Regions from separate parts of the Homo sapiens genome. Here region 1 is linked to region 2. The links come from fine-mapping of genetic effects on gene expression. Tissue or cell type: vagina. Region 2 holds a variant in brackets; the other region holds the start of a gene. All regions are shown on one strand. Distances are from middle to middle.

What was found. PIP is the estimated chance that this variant, and not a neighbour inherited with it, causes the effect.
Region 1: FHIP2B starts here. The variant in region 2 is fine-mapped to the expression of FHIP2B in vagina (GTEx, PIP above 0.99).

What each region holds. Positions count from the first base shown.
Region 1 is chr8:22,085,977-22,094,078 of GRCh38, forward strand. FHIP2B (FHF complex subunit HOOK interacting protein 2B) reads left to right here and starts at 3,174. Exons shown (of 17, transcript NM_022749.7): 1 at 3,174-3,322. The coding sequence starts at 3,278. RefSeq lists enhancers at 205-814, 3,914-4,053, 8,039-8,102 and silencers at 3,064-3,283, 3,344-3,403, 3,594-3,693.
Region 2 is chr8:21,247,593-21,255,694 of GRCh38, forward strand. No RefSeq gene overlaps it. Among named protein-coding and RNA genes, the nearest start is that of LINC03093, 47 kb to the right of the region's middle. The variant T/C (reference allele first, on the strand shown) is at 3,683.

The DNA of each region.
Region 1 (8,102 bases), 840 kb after region 2:
GGAAGCAAGCTGATTTGACCTATCCAGCCTGGGTCCTTTACCTGTGAGGAGGTGGGCCTAGAAATCTGCAGAGACTGAATTGGAACTCCCACCTGTCAGAGAACTGAGGTCCCAATCAATTCTCACTCAGCCTGGGCTTGGCTGAACCCTGGCCCTCCTCAGGGCCTGAGGCCCAGACACTGGCCACCCTGGCTCAGAGTCTGGACTGCAGGCTCCACACCACAGCACAGAGCCCACTCTGGGCAGGTCAGCATTTCCTGTGCCTCAGCCCCACTGGGGAATGGGTCCTAAAAGGTGAGGCAGGTCCTGTGAAGCCCGAGACCCCAAAACTCTAGGTTCTATAATTCTGACAGGGGCTATTCTTCCTTCCCGAGGGAAACTGATTCCTTTCCCTCTCGTCATATTGAGAGGTGACAGCGTGCTGGCAGTCCTCACAGCGCTCTCGGCGCCTCCTCTGCCTGGGTTCCCACTTTGGCGGCACTTGAGGAGCCCTTCAGCCCACCGCTGCACTTTGGGAGCCCCTTTCTGGGCTGGCCAAGGCCGGAGCCGGCTCCCTCAGCTTGTAGGGAGGTGTGGAGGGAAAGGCACGAACGGGAACCGGGGCTGCGCGCGGCGATTGCGGGCCAGCTGGAGTTCCGGGTGGGCTTGGGCTTGGCGGGCCCCGCACTCGGAGCAGCCGGCCGGCCCTGCAGGCCCCGGGCAATGAGGGGCTTAGCACCCGGGCCAGCAGCTGCGGAGGGTGTACTGGGTCCCCCAGCAGTGCCAGCCCACCGGCGCTGCGCTCGATTTCTCACCGGGCCTTAGCTGCCTTCCCGCGGGGCAGCGCTCGGGACCTGAAGCCCGCCCATACCGGAGCCTCCCACCCGCTCCGTGGGCTCCTGTGCGGCCGGAGCCTCCCCGACGAGCGCCGCCCCCTGCTCCAGGGCGCCCAGTCCCATCGACCACCCAAGGGCTGAGGAGTGCGGGCGCACGGCGCGGGAGCACGGCGCGGGACTGGCAGGCAGCTCCACCTGCAGCCCCGGTGCGGGATCCACTCGGTGAAGCCAGCTGGGCTCCTGAGTCTGGTGGGGACGTGGAGAACCTTTATGTCTAGCCCAGGGATTGTAAATACACCAATGGGCACTCTGTATCTAGCTCAAGGTTTGTAAACACACCAATCAGCACCGTGTGTCTAGCTCAGGGTTTGTGAGTGCACCAATCGACACTCTGTGTCTAGCTGCTCTGGTGGGGCCTTGGAGAACCTTTGTGTCAACACTCTGCATCTAGTTAATCTGATGGGGACGTGGAGAACCTTTGTGTCTAGCTCAGGGATTGTAAACGCACCAATCAGCGCCCTGTCAAAACAGACCACTGGGCTCTACCAATCAGCAGGATGAGGGTGGGGCCAGATAAGAGAATAAAAGCAGGCTGCCCAAGGTAGCAGTGGCAACTCGCTTGGGTTCCTTTCCACACTGTGGAAGTTTTTTTCTTTCACTTTTTGCAATAAGTTGCTGCTGTTCGTTCTTTGGGTTTCCCACTGCTTTTGTGAGCTGTAACACTGACGGCAAAGGTGTGCAGCTTCACTCCTGAAGTCAGCGAGACCACGAACCCAACAGGCGGAACTAAAAACTCCAGACGCGCCGCCTTAAGAGCTGTAGCACTCACCGCGAGGGTCTGCAGCTTCACCCCTAAGCCAGCGAGACCATCGAACCCACTAGAAGGAAGAAAGTCCAAACACATCCGAACATCAGAGCAAACTCCAGACGTGCCACCTTAAGAGCTGTAACACTCCCTGCAAGGGTCTACAGCTTCATTCTTGAAGTCAGTGAGACCAATGAACCTACCAATTCCGGACACAATATGATGTCAGTGATAAGCAGAGACACTGGTTTTTGTTTCTTAGAGAGACACTATTTTGCTGTCACCCAGTCTGGACTGCAGGGGCACGATCATAGCTCATTGCAGCCTCGAACTCCTGGGTTCAAGTGATCCTCCTCCCACCTCAGTCTCCCGAGCAGCTTGGACTACAGGCACATACCACCACACCTGGTTATTTTGTATTTTTATTTTTTGTCAAGACAGGATCTTCATATGTTGCCCAGGCTGGTCAACAGCCTTGGCCTCCTAAAGTGCTAGGATTTCAGGCTTGAGCCACCACACTCAGCTGCAGACTTTTTTTTTTTTTTTTTTTTTTTTGAGACGGTCTCACTCTGTTGCCCGGGCTGGAGTGCACTGGCACGATCTTGGCTCACTGCAACCTCTGCCTCTCGGGTTCAAGTGATTCTCCCACCTTAGCCTCCACATACCACCACGCTTGGCTAATTTTTTTGTATTTTTAGTAGAGACGGGTTTTCACCATGTTGGCCAGGCTGGTCTCAAACTCCTGGCCTCAAGTGATCAAACCGCCTTGGCCTCCCAAAGTGCTGGGATTACAGGTGTGAGCCACCGCCCACAGCCCATAAACATTTTCTGATAGCCCTGTCAAAAAAGTAAAAAGCAACACGTGAAGTTAATTTTAACAATATACGTTATTTAACCCAACACACCTAATAGTCATTTCAATATGTAATCAATATAAGCCATGGTTGTTGCAGTTTCACACTTTCCTTTCTTACTGTATCTTCCAAATCGGGGTGTGCTTGGCACGGCACATCTTGGTTGGGACCAGCACATTTCAGGAGCTCATCAGCCCATGTGCCTGGGGCTGACTGAGACTTCAATTCAGGAGGAATTGTAATTTCTCTTCGAAAACACCTCCCTTAGCTCCCGCCTTAATCCCAGCTACTCAGGAGGCCCTGGCGGGAGGGTCGCTTGAGGCCAGGAGCTGGAGATCATCCTAGGCAGCACAGTGAGACCTCCCCTCCCAGTAAAAAAACAAAAAAAAAAAACAATTGGCCAGGCGTGGTGGCGCGCGCCTGTGGACCCAGCTACTCTGGAGGCCGGGGTTGGAGGATCGCATGAGTCCAGGAGTTGGAGGCTGCAATGAGCAGAGATCGCGCCACTACACTCCAGCCTGGGCGACCAAGCGAGACCCTGTCTCGGAAGAAAGGAAAGAAAAAAAAAAAAAAAAAAAACACCTCCCAGCCAACTCTCAGGGCCCACCGCTGGCGGTTCCCAGCCCGACTGGGCGCCCCCAGCCGGGGTTAGCCAGCGCCACGCAGCCGGGCCGGGAAGGGGCGGAGCGGCCGGGCCCCGCCCCCCTCGTCGCGCCGGGGCCGCCGGGGCCACGGGGCTGCCTCCTCCGCCTAGAGCGCTGCCGCCGCCGCTTTCGCCCGGGAGCCGGGGGCCGGGCGCCATCATGCTGAGCCGGCTCGGGGCGCTGCTGCAGGAAGCCGTGGGGGCGGTGAGGCCGGCAGGGCCGGGCCGGGCCGCCGGGAGTCGCGGGCCTAGGCCGGGCTGGGCGGGCGCGGAGCCGGGCGCGGCCCGCAGGAGGGCGGGCGGGCGCGGGCCCCCTCGGGCAGGGACCCCCGGGCCGCGGCGCCCCTTCCTCTGCCTCCCCGGCCGCGCCCCGCTTCCCCTCGCTCTTCCCAGTCCCGCTCCCAGACTCCTCCCGACCGCCCCACCTCCCCGGCCTGCTCCCGCGTCGCTTCCTGTCTGTGCGTCCTGGCCCCGGAGTCTCTCCCAATTCCCGAACTCGCCTCCGCCGGGACGCTCCCTGTCACCGCTTGGGGTGTTTCCTGCCCCCCGGGGCCCTAGGCCGCCTCCCCCCAGTCCCGGTGGGCCTGCCTCCTTCCTCCGCTCCACCCCACCGCCTCGCCTGGGCTTGAAAAAATCGCCGTCCCTTCCCCTCGGTCTGATCTCCCAGACAACTCCAGGACCTTGTTGGGGTGCAGGACGCCCTTCCCGTCACCCCGGGACGTGGGAAGTGCAGGCCCTGCCGGTCCAAGTCCCCACGAAGGGTAAAGACCCGGGGCAGGCTGGTGGGCCCCCAGCCGGGGAAATCGCCTTCTATTGGGTGCAGATGTTTCCAGCGTGGCTGTGACCCCTCACAAGCCAAATTGAGTTAGGGACATGCCGCCCGTGGTGGGGCCTGGGTGGCCCTGTGCGGGGAGGAGAGTCCATTGATGTTTCACGTGCCGTCAGTTTGTGTTTTTGCCATTTTTTGTTGGGGCTGCAGGCTGGCAGGCAGCCTACTACTAGGGTTCGTTCAGCAAGATGTAGCGCTGTGTAGGAAGGGTGGGGGTATTCCCGGTAGGGTGGGGGGGGTGCCCGCTGTTGAAAGTAACTCTGCCAAGAAGCTGTCTGTAAAGTCAGCAATACTTCTGCCTCCTAGTATAAATCTTCCCCCAATTGATGAGTTGAGTATCAGATTTTCTCAGGAGAGAAAGTCTTGGGTTTCACCCTCCTTCCTCCCCACCACCTCCTCCCCAACCCTCATGGGAGCTCCTGTTGAAAGAAGTTTGCCTTAGGCAAAGTTGGGAAGAAAGTCAGAAACTATGACTTCCTCCACCTTCCCAGCCCTGCTGTTGACCCAGGGCCAGGGCCTTGGGGCATCCAGGTAGAGAGGGTTCCAAAATGATTTTTCTTCCCCTTCCCCCATCCCCAGTCAAAACAGCTGTGATCTTCAAAAGTGATCTGATAAACCAATTCATACCTCTGGGGAACACTCCATTTACAGGAGGTGAGACAGGCCAGACAGTTCCTCAGTCCTGAGGAGTGAATTTCTTTCTTTTTCTTTTCTTTTTATTATTTATTTATTTATTTCTGAGCCCAGGCTAGACTACAGTGGTGCGATCTCCGCTCATTGCAGCCTCCACCTCCTGGGCTCAAGCAATCCTCCCACCTCAGCCTCCTGAGTAGCTGGGACTACAGGCATGCGGCACCACGCCAGGCTAATTTTTGTATTTTTTGTAGAGACAGGGTTTCAACATGTTGCCCAGGCTGGTCTTGAGCTCCTGGCCTCAAGCGATCCTTAGCCTCCCAAAGTGGTGGGATTACAGGCATGAGCCACCGCACCCGGCTAGGAGTCAAATTCTAAGGCTTCCAATGACAGAAGTACAGGCATCAGTGGCAGGAGATTTTGGCAGTGGAGGGAGATCTTTTTAGGCAGGTGATCTTCCGGGCCCTTTAGTATTGACCATATAGGCTATGTCCGGGCGGTGTGGTTGGCCCTACAGGGAGACGGGAATTCCTCTTTTGTGCTCTACCCTCAGGTCGCCAGTCTAGGTCTTTCCCAAGCCTTGGTCACCAAGTGTGATCCTAGTAAGTCAACTGATTACTCATTGAGTAGGAAGACTGCTCCTTCCCGCCCTCTTCTGATCTAACAGATTAGGAATCATTACAGCTTTTTTTTTTTTTTTTTTTTTTTTTTTTTAAGATGGAGTCTTCCACTGTCACCCAGGCTGGAGTGCAGTGGGGCGATCTCAGCTGACTGCAACCTCCACCTCAAGTGGTTCTCCTGCCTCAGCCTCCTGAGTAGCTGGGACTACAGGGCTGCGCCACCACGCCCAGCTAATATTTGTAATTTTAGTAGAGATGAGGTTTCGCCATGTTGGCCAGGCTGGTCTCGAACTCCTGACCTTAAGTGATCCACCTGCCTTGGCCTCCCAAAGTGCTAGGATTACAGGTGTGAGCCACCACCATGTCTGGCCACTAATAATATCGTTAAAGAGAAATTGTTGGGTCTAGTGCCTTTGGTTTGGAGTTATCATAGCTGGTGGTGGAGTTAGGTAAAGATCACACACCTGTGTCACCAGCTCTCTAATGGCCTGTGCTGGTTAACCTGCCTCTCCCGTGTCTCCTGCCGTACTGGAGTATTCTTTTTGGTTAAAGCCCAGCTCAAGGTTTTCAAAGACTATAAGCCAATTTTGAGGCTAAAGGAGACCCCATCACAGAAATTATGAGATAATTGTAGGGCTGGTGAAGGGCCAGAGGACTTTCTAAAACAAGGAACTAGGGAAAGAATCTCTCCAGGAGTTTCCTGAGATATCTGGTAAATATTCATGGGTATTCACTATGTGCTGAGCCCATTGAGGGCAGGCTAGCTGTAAAACACAGAACCCTGGCTCTCAGGGAGCTCATCATCTAGCAGAAGAGATGATTGCTCAGCACAGCAGGCACTGTCACATAGAATGTAGTGAGATGCGGTCACTGCACAGGGATGGAATATTTGGAATAACTGTGGGTGGTGCTACTTTTGAGAAGGGTTGCAGCCCCTACCAACTAGCTTTGCAAGAAGACAAGATGCCCTGCGGACTGAGGGGAGTTTCCAGTTCTGTGAATGTCATCCCTCCCTCCCCATGTTGCAGTGGCCTTCTAAGCATATTCTTCCTGCCTTTACCTCCTCTCCCAAGGCCAACTGCCAGATGAGTCTTCCGAAAACACTGCTCAGAAGGTGCCAATGGCCGGGTGTGGTGGCTCATGCCTGTAATCCCAGCACTTTGGGAGGCCCAGGTGGGCGGACCACTTGAGGTCAGGAGTTTGAGACCAGCCTGGCCAACATGGTGAAACCCCGTCTCTACTAAAAATACAAAAATCAGCCAGGCGTGGTGGCACATGTCTGTAATCCCAGCAACTTGGGAGGCAGGAGAATCACTTGAACCCAGGAAGCGGAGGTTACAGTGAGCTGAGATGGTGCCACTGCACTCTAGCCTCAGTGACGGTGAGACTCTTTTTTTTTTTTTTTGAGACTCTGTCTCAGAAGAAAAAAAAAAAGTTGTCATTGACCTGCTCCCTGCTGCCTGCAAAAAATGACTGAGACTTCTTGGCTTGGCATTAGAGACTCCGAAGTCTCGCCAGCCCACCCCTTCCCCAGGCACACTTTGCAGAGTTCCTTCTGCAGGGACTGTCTTCCTTCTCTTGTTGATATTGACCTGGTTCTTCAAGTTTTAGTTGAGATGTGATCTTGGTAAAGCCTTCCCTGTTCCAGCCTGTTAGAAGTTACCCCTGTTTTTCTGAGAGGTCACTACTTTCCACCTCTCCTGCGGCCTCACACTACTTCCTTGTAGCTTCGTTATTCAATGCGGTTTTATATCGTCTTCTCCATGACACATTTCTTGAGGACTAGGTGTTAGTCATCCTCATGTTGCTTGTGGCATCTAGCATAGTGTCTTGTACATAGTGGGCACTTAGAATGAACAAATGATTTCATGAGTGGCTACTCAGTTCTGTGGTGCAGTAAAGTGTGAGGTCAGAGAGGTGTGGGCAGGCAGGGACACTGGAGAGGGCTTGGTGGAGCTGCTGGGGACTGAACCTCACTGGGGACTTTCACGATCCAGACAGTTAGTGGGATACAGAGCACCTTGGGCAGAGGAGTGGCCCCAGCAAAGACCTAGAGGCAGAAATGCACAGCTGTGGGGAGGGATGATTAGAATTCTTTTTTTCCTGAAAACATTTACTCTGCAAGAAAAGCGAAGGAATGGTGTTGTTGTTGTTGTTGTTGTTGTTTTTGAGAAGTTTTCAGGGAAAGTGATTGTTCTCAGTGCAAGGCCAGTATCAGCCATGGTGTAGAGATGGAGAGAGCACTCATGGAAAAGGGGGAGGTTAGGGGCTTGCCCAGAGCAGAACCAGAATTTTCCAGGGCTTGATAGAAGGAGCCGGTAGAGGAGGAAACGAGAACAGCACTGGCTGAGGAGTTGGGGTTGTGCAGGCTCAGGCTTTGGACACAAGATGAAAGCATGTAAGCATGTTATAAGGAAGGCACATTGTTAATATCATGCTAATGTTACCTACCCTTCCGGCTGAACAGAGCCTGTGGTGGTCTTGAACAGATTTTCATAGACTCTCAGATTGAGAGGAATGGAAAAGCTTTGTCTTTTTTTTTTTTTTTTTTTTTTTTTTGAGATAGGGTCTCACCTTGTCACCTAGGCTGGAGTGCAGCGCTGCGATCACAATTCACTGAAGCCTTGACCTCCCTGGGCTCAGGTGATCCTCGCACCCCAGCCTCCCAAGTAGCTGGGACTATAGGCAGACACCACCACGTCCTGCTAGTTTTTAAATTGTTTATAGAGACAGAGCTTCATCATGTTGCCGAGGCTGGTTTAAACTCCTGGACTCGAGCCGTCTGCCCACCTTTGCCTCACAAACTGTTGGGCTTACAGGCGTGAGCCACTGCACCTGACCTTTGCCACATTTTCGATCTGTATCATTTTGCTTTTCTTTGGGGGACTGCGCTCCCGTGTTCC
Region 2 (8,102 bases):
AGACATTTCCTCAAAGAAGATACATAAATGGCCAAAAAGCACATGAAAAGATGTCCACCATCACTAATCATTAGGGAAATACAAATCAAAACCACAATGACATACCATCTCAAACCCATTAGGTTGGCTACTTTCAAAAAACGAACCCGAAAGTAAGTGTGGACAAGGACGTGGAGAAATTGGAACCCTCATGCACTGTCGGCAGGACTGTAAAATGATGCAACCCTCATGGAAAAGTGTGTTAATTCCTCAAAAAATTAAGAGTAGAATTATATGATTCAGCAATTTCACTTCTGGATGGATATACATCCACAAGATTTGAAAGCAGGTCATGACAAGATATTTACACACCTATGTTCATAGTAGCATTATTCACAAAAGCCAAAGGTGGAAGCAACCCAAATGTCCATTGACAAGTGAATAAAGTGCAGTGTATACATACAATGGATTATTCAGCCTTAAAAAGAAAAGAAATTATGATACATAGTACAGCACAGATGGACTCTGGGGACATTATGCTAAGTTAAATAAAAAGACAAATGCTATATGATTTCACTTACATGAGGTACCTGGAGGAGTCAAATTCATCCAGACAGAAAGTAAAACGATTGCTGCCAGGGGCTGGGTGGAGGGGAGAATGGGAAATTTGTCTTTAATAAGTACAGAGTTTCAATTCGGGATGGTGACAAGAGTCCTGGAGATTAAGTATGTTCACACTGTTATGTGAATATTCACATAGCATTGTTTATATTCATATTGTCATGTGAATATACGTAACTCTACTAAACTGTATACTTAAAAATGGTAAAGATGGTAAAATTTGTGTCATGTGAATGCTACTGCAATTAAAAAGAGAAGGACCTGTTCTCCATCTTCAGACTGCTCATGTTTTTGTACTAGTGAGGTGCCTCACCACTCCTCAGTCTAAGGCTTTCCGTGGCTATTCTGTTTAGGTACTTCGTCCCCATATAGTTGGCATGTCTTCTGTGTGGACATGGCCTTTCTGCTTTCTCTATAATGTGCTAGTCTAAAACTTCTTTAATTTGCAAGCCAGAAACCAGAGGCTTAGTGAATGAGACTTGTTCAGTGTCAGAAAACTACTGCAGAGCCCAGGAAGACCCTGATGTATCCCACTGGCTCTGGCTCACTTGAAGTCACCCTTTTTTTTCTTCTGAAAGAAACTTTTGGTTACACTGTCCCCAGAACTCTCAGAAGGTCATCAGCTCAAACAAACGCACTGGCAGTTAGTGCCAGGCAAAATGGGATACCCTTTCTCCAGGTTCAAGCTCATCAGGATCCTCTTTCTGGCTGTTGAGACAAAGCAGGTGGTCTCTAGAAGGAATGTCTCATTTCCCAGTGCCTCCAACCCTCTTCTCTCAAATGGAGTTAAAGAGCCCTCTTGGTAGTGAGCCCCTGCCCCAGCCCTTATGTCAGAGGATAGCAGGCTCAGAAGATAGCAGCCTTCTTTTCATGAGTCTTCACATCTACCTTGACCGTATCATTCAGAAGGACTCAGAGCCGCTGAGGCTCAAAGTTAGAAATGGAAATGGGTTTTTCGCCTGCTTTGGATCCTGACATCCAGAAGTGATCCACCCTTACAGGACTTGAGTACCATGGTAATACATGTAGGAAAGGTGGAAAAGGCGAAAGGCAAGAGGCGAGAGAGAGAGAACACACCAGCTTCGGAAATGAACTGGTAATTTAAAAGTGTGCATCATCTCCAACAGCCTCTCTCTCTGGGAGTTTCCTAAATGACTACAACAATAAGAGGATGGAAAGCAGTGGGTTACTCAGCCCGCAGCCTCTCTGGCCAGGCTCACTCTCACTGCCTGGTGTCATTTCTCTCTGCCTTATGCCCTGATGTTTGGAATCCAGCCAGAGCCAGGCTTATAGATAGTTTGTAGGTCACTTCGATCATGCTATTTTCAGATTCAGTGATAGAAATAGCTCATACAAGCTTCTCACAGTTATTCCTGCTCTATTTACGGATGGCACCACAACATGGTTTGGAAGAAAAAGAATATAATCCTGGATCACGTCAGGGTCCTGGATCTGTAATATGACGTGTTGGCTCACAGGCTTTATGCAAGTCACTCAGCCTCTTGAAGATGTAGTATGTGTATTATAAAATGGTACATTGCAGTATCTGCTTCAAAGGATTGTTGTAGCAATCAAATAAAACAATCTATAAATAAACTATTCACTGCTATACAAACAGAAGTGAAAACATGTAGTCCTCATGCCAAATCCAGTCTGCTCCATTCCTTGCTCAGCTTGTACACTTTTAAATCATTGGAATGACTTCAGACCAGCTTGGACTCTCCAGATACCACAGTCTCCACTTCTCCATATTGTCTCACATCTAGCCTACTTTTTACTCATAATGTTGCCTTAAAAGCTTGCATTTGAGATCCGAATATGGTACTCTAAAGATAAGCAGAATACAGCATTGCAGACGAGGCATAGGACCTATAGCCTGGCACATCCAGAAATGTGACTTTGCAAGCACATCAAGAAAGGGGCTTTAATCAGAGGCAGCCTCAGACTCACTGGGCTGATAACAGCGATGTCAAAAACCAGAGTGTCCAATTATGAATTTTCAATGACAAAGAAAATGGTCCTGAAGATTGGAATCCCTTGTCACTACCTTTATATTGACAATATGCTACAAGCAAAGCATCACTACAGTTAGAAGATTCCTCGGCTTATATAACACTGGCACTAAAATAAGTAAATCGATAAAGCAGTGGTACATGCTAGGAAGCCCAAAAATAGAATTTAGCATACATAGGAATTTAGTATCCAGTAAAGGTGGCATTTCCAACCAGTGAGAAGGTGATAGATTTATTTCGTAAATGCAGTTAGGGTAATTTGTTAACTGTTTGTGAAAATACAGTTACTTTATATTATGGTCTTCACACTATAAACCAATATAAGCTCCAAATGGATAAAAGCACTAAAATTTTTCATTAAAAACAACATAAAAAACCTAGAAGAAAATATAAGTGAATACTTATCTGCTCTCATGTAGAAAAGACACTCCTAAGCATAAAAGCAAAGGAAGAAACTCTAAAAGAAAAAAATTATAAGCTTTACTACATAAACATTTAAATACTTATAAAGATCTGAAGATGCCACAAATAAAATTAAGAGGAAACAAGCCAAAAAGAAAAAAAAAAAGGCCAGGAGCAGTGGCTCATGCCTGTAATCCCTGCACTTAGGGGAGGCCGAGGCAGGCTGACCACTTGAGGCCCGGAGTTCGAGACCAGCCTGGCCAACGTGGCGAAACCCCATCTCTACTGAAAAAAAGAAACAGAAAAATCAGCCAGGTCTATACCTGTAATCCCGGCTAATCAGGAGGCTGAGGCAGGAGAATCGCTTGAACCTGGGAGGCAGAGGTTTCGGTGAGCTGATAGCATGTCACTACACTCTAGCCTGGGTGATGGAGTGAGACTCTGTCTCAAAATAAAATAAAATAAAATAAAAAATAGAAAATCAGCAACCTGGGGCCAGGCATACAGTGATAAACAAAACACATGGGACCTACACCTTCACAGAATTTTCAACCCCATGGACAACAGACATTAAAAGCAGGACCACCTTCAAATAAATCATTAGACATAGAGATATGTCCCTCTGAAGCCAAAAAATTGAAAGTCATACCAGGGACCTCTCCAGTTAA[T/C]AGTCAAGGAAGGTCTCTCTGAATGTGTTATTTGTTCTGGGGACTAGGAAGATGAGTAGGAGTGAGGACAAGGGTGGGGAGTAAAGACCCAAGCCAAGAGAAGACCGCTGTGGCATGTGGTGGCAACAGCAGCCAGAAGGACAGTGGAGCACAAGGTTGAAGTGGAAAAATTACAGGAGGAAGGACCGGACAGTTAAGCAGGGCTATGTACGCTGACTTAAAACTTTCATACTTTTAACTGAGTCTTTGAATGGTTCTTATAAATCACTAAGACGAGAACTATATTCCAATAGGCAAGAGGGCAAAGTGGGCAATTCACACAACAGGAAATGCCAATAAATTTTTAAGAGACCAAAAGTCATTAAGGTAGAAGGTTGACCACGGCTGAGAGAAAAGGACAGCCAATGGGTTGAAGGCATGCTTTTGGGGTGATGGAAATATTTCAAAATTGGATCCTTGTGATGGTTGCATAATTATAAATTTATTATGAAATAAATGAATTGCACATTTAAAATGTATTTTATGGTATGTAAATTATACCTTCATAAAGCTATTTTTAAAAATTATTGTTCAACATCTCTAGAATCAAAGAAATGCAAATTAAAATACAATATAATTTATGTTTCAAATTTATACACAATTTAACAAATAACAATATTCAGTGTTGGTAAAATGGAAAATGGGCATTTATATAGAATTCTAATAAATTTGACAATAACTATAAAAGCCTTATTACTTGATCACATACCTTGGAATTTAATATAACCATGAATCTATAAAAAAATTTTGTATGACAATGTTTATCACATAAATACTTGTGAAATGAAAAAACACAGAAAAAGTGTAATGTTGACCAGTAGATGATTATTTAAACAGCAAACAGTACAATTATTTTTAAGAATATGCTATAGAAGAACACAAAGAGGCCAGGCATGGTGGCTTACCCCTGTAATCCCAGCACTTTGGGAGGCCAAGTCAGGCAGATCACTTAAGGCCAGGCATTCTAGACCAGCCTGGCTAATATGGTGAAACCCACCTCTACCAAAAATACAAAAATTAGCCAGGCATGGTAGCAGACACCTGTAATTCCAGCTACTTGGGAGGCTGAGGCAGGAGAATAACTTGAACCCGGGAGTCGGAGCTTGCAGTGAGCTGAGATCGCACCACTGCTTTCCAGCCAGGGCAACAGCATGAGACTCCATTTAAAAAGAAGAAAAAAGAAGAAGGAAGAAGAAAGAAGAAAGAACAATAAGAAGAATGCATAGTTACATGAAGAAGAGGTGACACGTTAAGTCAAAAATTACAAAACAGCATAGTATGATAGTATGATCCCTATATGGAGAAATCAGACATGCTTCTATAGAAAAAGTCTTAAAGGGCAGGAATCTAGGTATCAGCGTTAGGTATCAATTAGCTGTTACCACAAAATGCTGTTTAACAGAATACCCCAAAGCCTATAAGAAGCACTTGTTTTTTGTGTGTTATTAGGATGTCTCTCCTGAGGGAAGCAAGGCAATAGGGCTGCAGGGGAGGTCCTGGTCCACACATCTCTCCAGTGCCTATGCTATCCAGGCATCTTTTATCATGGCAGAAGCATAAGAGGGCAAGCCCAACTGCAGGAGCACATCTCTAGCCTCTGCATGCATCACTTCTGCCCACATTCCACCAGGCCAAAGTAAGTCACAGAGCCAAAGCCCAAGACAAGGGGTAAGGAGATGCACTTGCCAGTCGGGGTAGACACTGCAAGTTATTGGGGGTCCAAGAATGGGCAACAATAATGCATTCTACACAATATCAAAAGTTTAAATGTGATTATTTCCGAGTGAAGCAGATGTGTTGCTTTGTTTTCTTTTGTTTACTTTTACATATTGCATTACTCAGCTATTTTCTAGGTTTACTTCCTGCTCATGTTATACACATCTATGGGAAAACAGTGGCTCTATCTCACAGGTCCTTCTACACTCAATAAAAGAACCTCTCCCACGTGAGGCAGGCCATTCTAAAGCACTGGAAAAAGAACAATGACAGAAATTGGAAAGGTTTTTAAAGCCTCTGCTGGACAGCTGAATGTCACTTCCAGTCACATTCCATTGGCCAAAAACCTCACAGAGCAAGCCTGGCACGATCAGTCAAAGAGGGGATCACACACCTGTAGTAGGTAGGGGACTGCAATTCACATAGCAGTGGATGGGAGTGAAAAGGCCATGAATAGTGCAAATAGTAGTGTCATCTACATACTTACTAGCATTTCCAGCTTTTCTATAATGGCCACGAATGGTTTTATTTTTATTTATCTAATTATTTATTTCTTTCTATTAGAAGCTAGACATGAACAGAAAATTTACTTTTTCAAATTTCCTTGCCATTTTTAAGGTTTTGTTTTTATCACACATGCTTTTATTTCATGCATGCTTTAGAAGGCATTAGCCCCTGCCCTCTCCTCTCCATCTCCCTCATTGCTTAATCACCAGAACCCAACACCTTCAACAGTTATAGCATTCAGTTAGTATTAGGTTGGTGAAAAAGTAATTGTGGTTTTTGCCATTACTTTTAATTTGCCTCCACTCCTCTAAGTTGCATGCATATCTAACTACTTCTTGAGTTTTACCAATTCTAGGCTGTCTCTCGACTTGCAGTATAAAAGGTAAGACGTGAGTTTGCTCTCATCTCCACAAGCTCACCACATACACATATTCCTAACCAGCCCCGATGTACCCCCAGTGGAGATGTACTGTGATTGGTTGGCATATTCATCTTCACCTGGTGTACATTACTATTATCACCATACAGACACTGTGCATGGCTAAGCCTCAGGGTACACTGTGAATCTTTTTCCTTCTCAGCACTATTCTGTTCTGTCTCAATTTTTGTTTTTGTTTTGCTTTACCTTTTTCATTTGTTCATCTCTGTGTATTTATCACATTTCAACCCCAACTGTCTGCCCAATGTCTAAATCTCCTCTCAGTATAGTTGGACCCATCAAACATTCCAGCAGTTTCATTTTCTTAAAGAACTCTCTGTCTCTCTCAGAGCCCTGTGTGCTACTCCAATCTGGCTTACTTGCCTTTGATGCATCCTAGTATCTCCCTTCACTATCATCCTGGCATTTCTTTCGTCTATCTTCAGTGTAGAAATTCCTGTTTCCTATAACTCATGTCTTCCTCTCTGTTAGTTTACTGTCTCAGTTTGGCAGAGCAAACTTCCCAATAGTTTCCTAAGAAAAGGTGCCTTAGGGGTAAATCTCTTGAAACATTCACGTTTTTATTCTCTCCATACACATAATTGATAAATTTGTATCAATGCGATTGATACAGCATTCCAGGTTACAAATCATTTTGCATAAAAAATTTGAGTAGTCCTAATTTCTGGTGTTGCTGTTGAGGAGTCAGAAGTCATTCTGTTTGCTTATCCTGTGTAGGCAATCTACATTTTTTTTTCCTCCCTGGAAACTTGTAGGATGAACCTTCAGTTCCAGTGTTCTAAAATTTCCTAAAAAGATGTGCCATGATGTGAGTCTGTTATCACTCATTGTTTGAATCTTCACTGGCTCTTCTCATCTGCAAGTGCATGTCTTTCAAATACAGAAAATTTTCTTATTTTTTGATGATTTCCTCTCTTCTGTTTCCCCTCTTCACTCATTATGGAACTATGATTCAGATACTAGTCTTTCAGGACAGGCTGTCTCATTTTTAATATTTTCACCCCTGCTTTCCATCCTCTTCACTTTTGGCTCTACTTTCTCTGAGAATACCTTAACTTTATCTCCCAACCATCATACTTTTAATTTCTAAAAAAAAAAAAAAGTCTTGTTCTCTGAATGTTCCTTTTTAAAATACCATGTTCTTGTTTCAGGATTGCACTATATTCTCTTATTTCCCTAAAGATATTTAGATGATTTTATTTTTTGTATTCTCTCTGTAGTCTCTGTTCCATCAAGTTGCCTTTTTCTATTTCTTTATTCTGGTGTTGATCTTTCTAGATGGAAGCTTTCCTCAGATCTATCTCTGACTTTCCTTGTCATCTCCTTATCTTTAAGACTGGGTGTCTGAGAGCACGGAGCATGTGAATGAGTCTTGTGGACTATCACACTGGAGTAATCTGGTTGGCCTGTTACATTGGAAAACCCCCAGCGTGGTAACATTGTACCTGAACTGGTGCAATCTCTAGAGAAGGTTTTTCTAACCTCTTGCTTGAAAGATAAAAATAGGGTGGCGAGGTGGCTCACACCTGTAATCCCAGCACTTTGGGAGGCTAAGACAGGCAGATCACTTGAGGCCAGGAGTTCGAGACCAGCCTGGCCAATATGATGAAACCCCTTCTCTACTTAAAAAAAAATTAGCTGGATGTGATGGCACATGCCTGCAATCCCAACTACTGGGGAGGTTGAGGCATGAGAATCACTTGAACCTGGGAGGTGGAG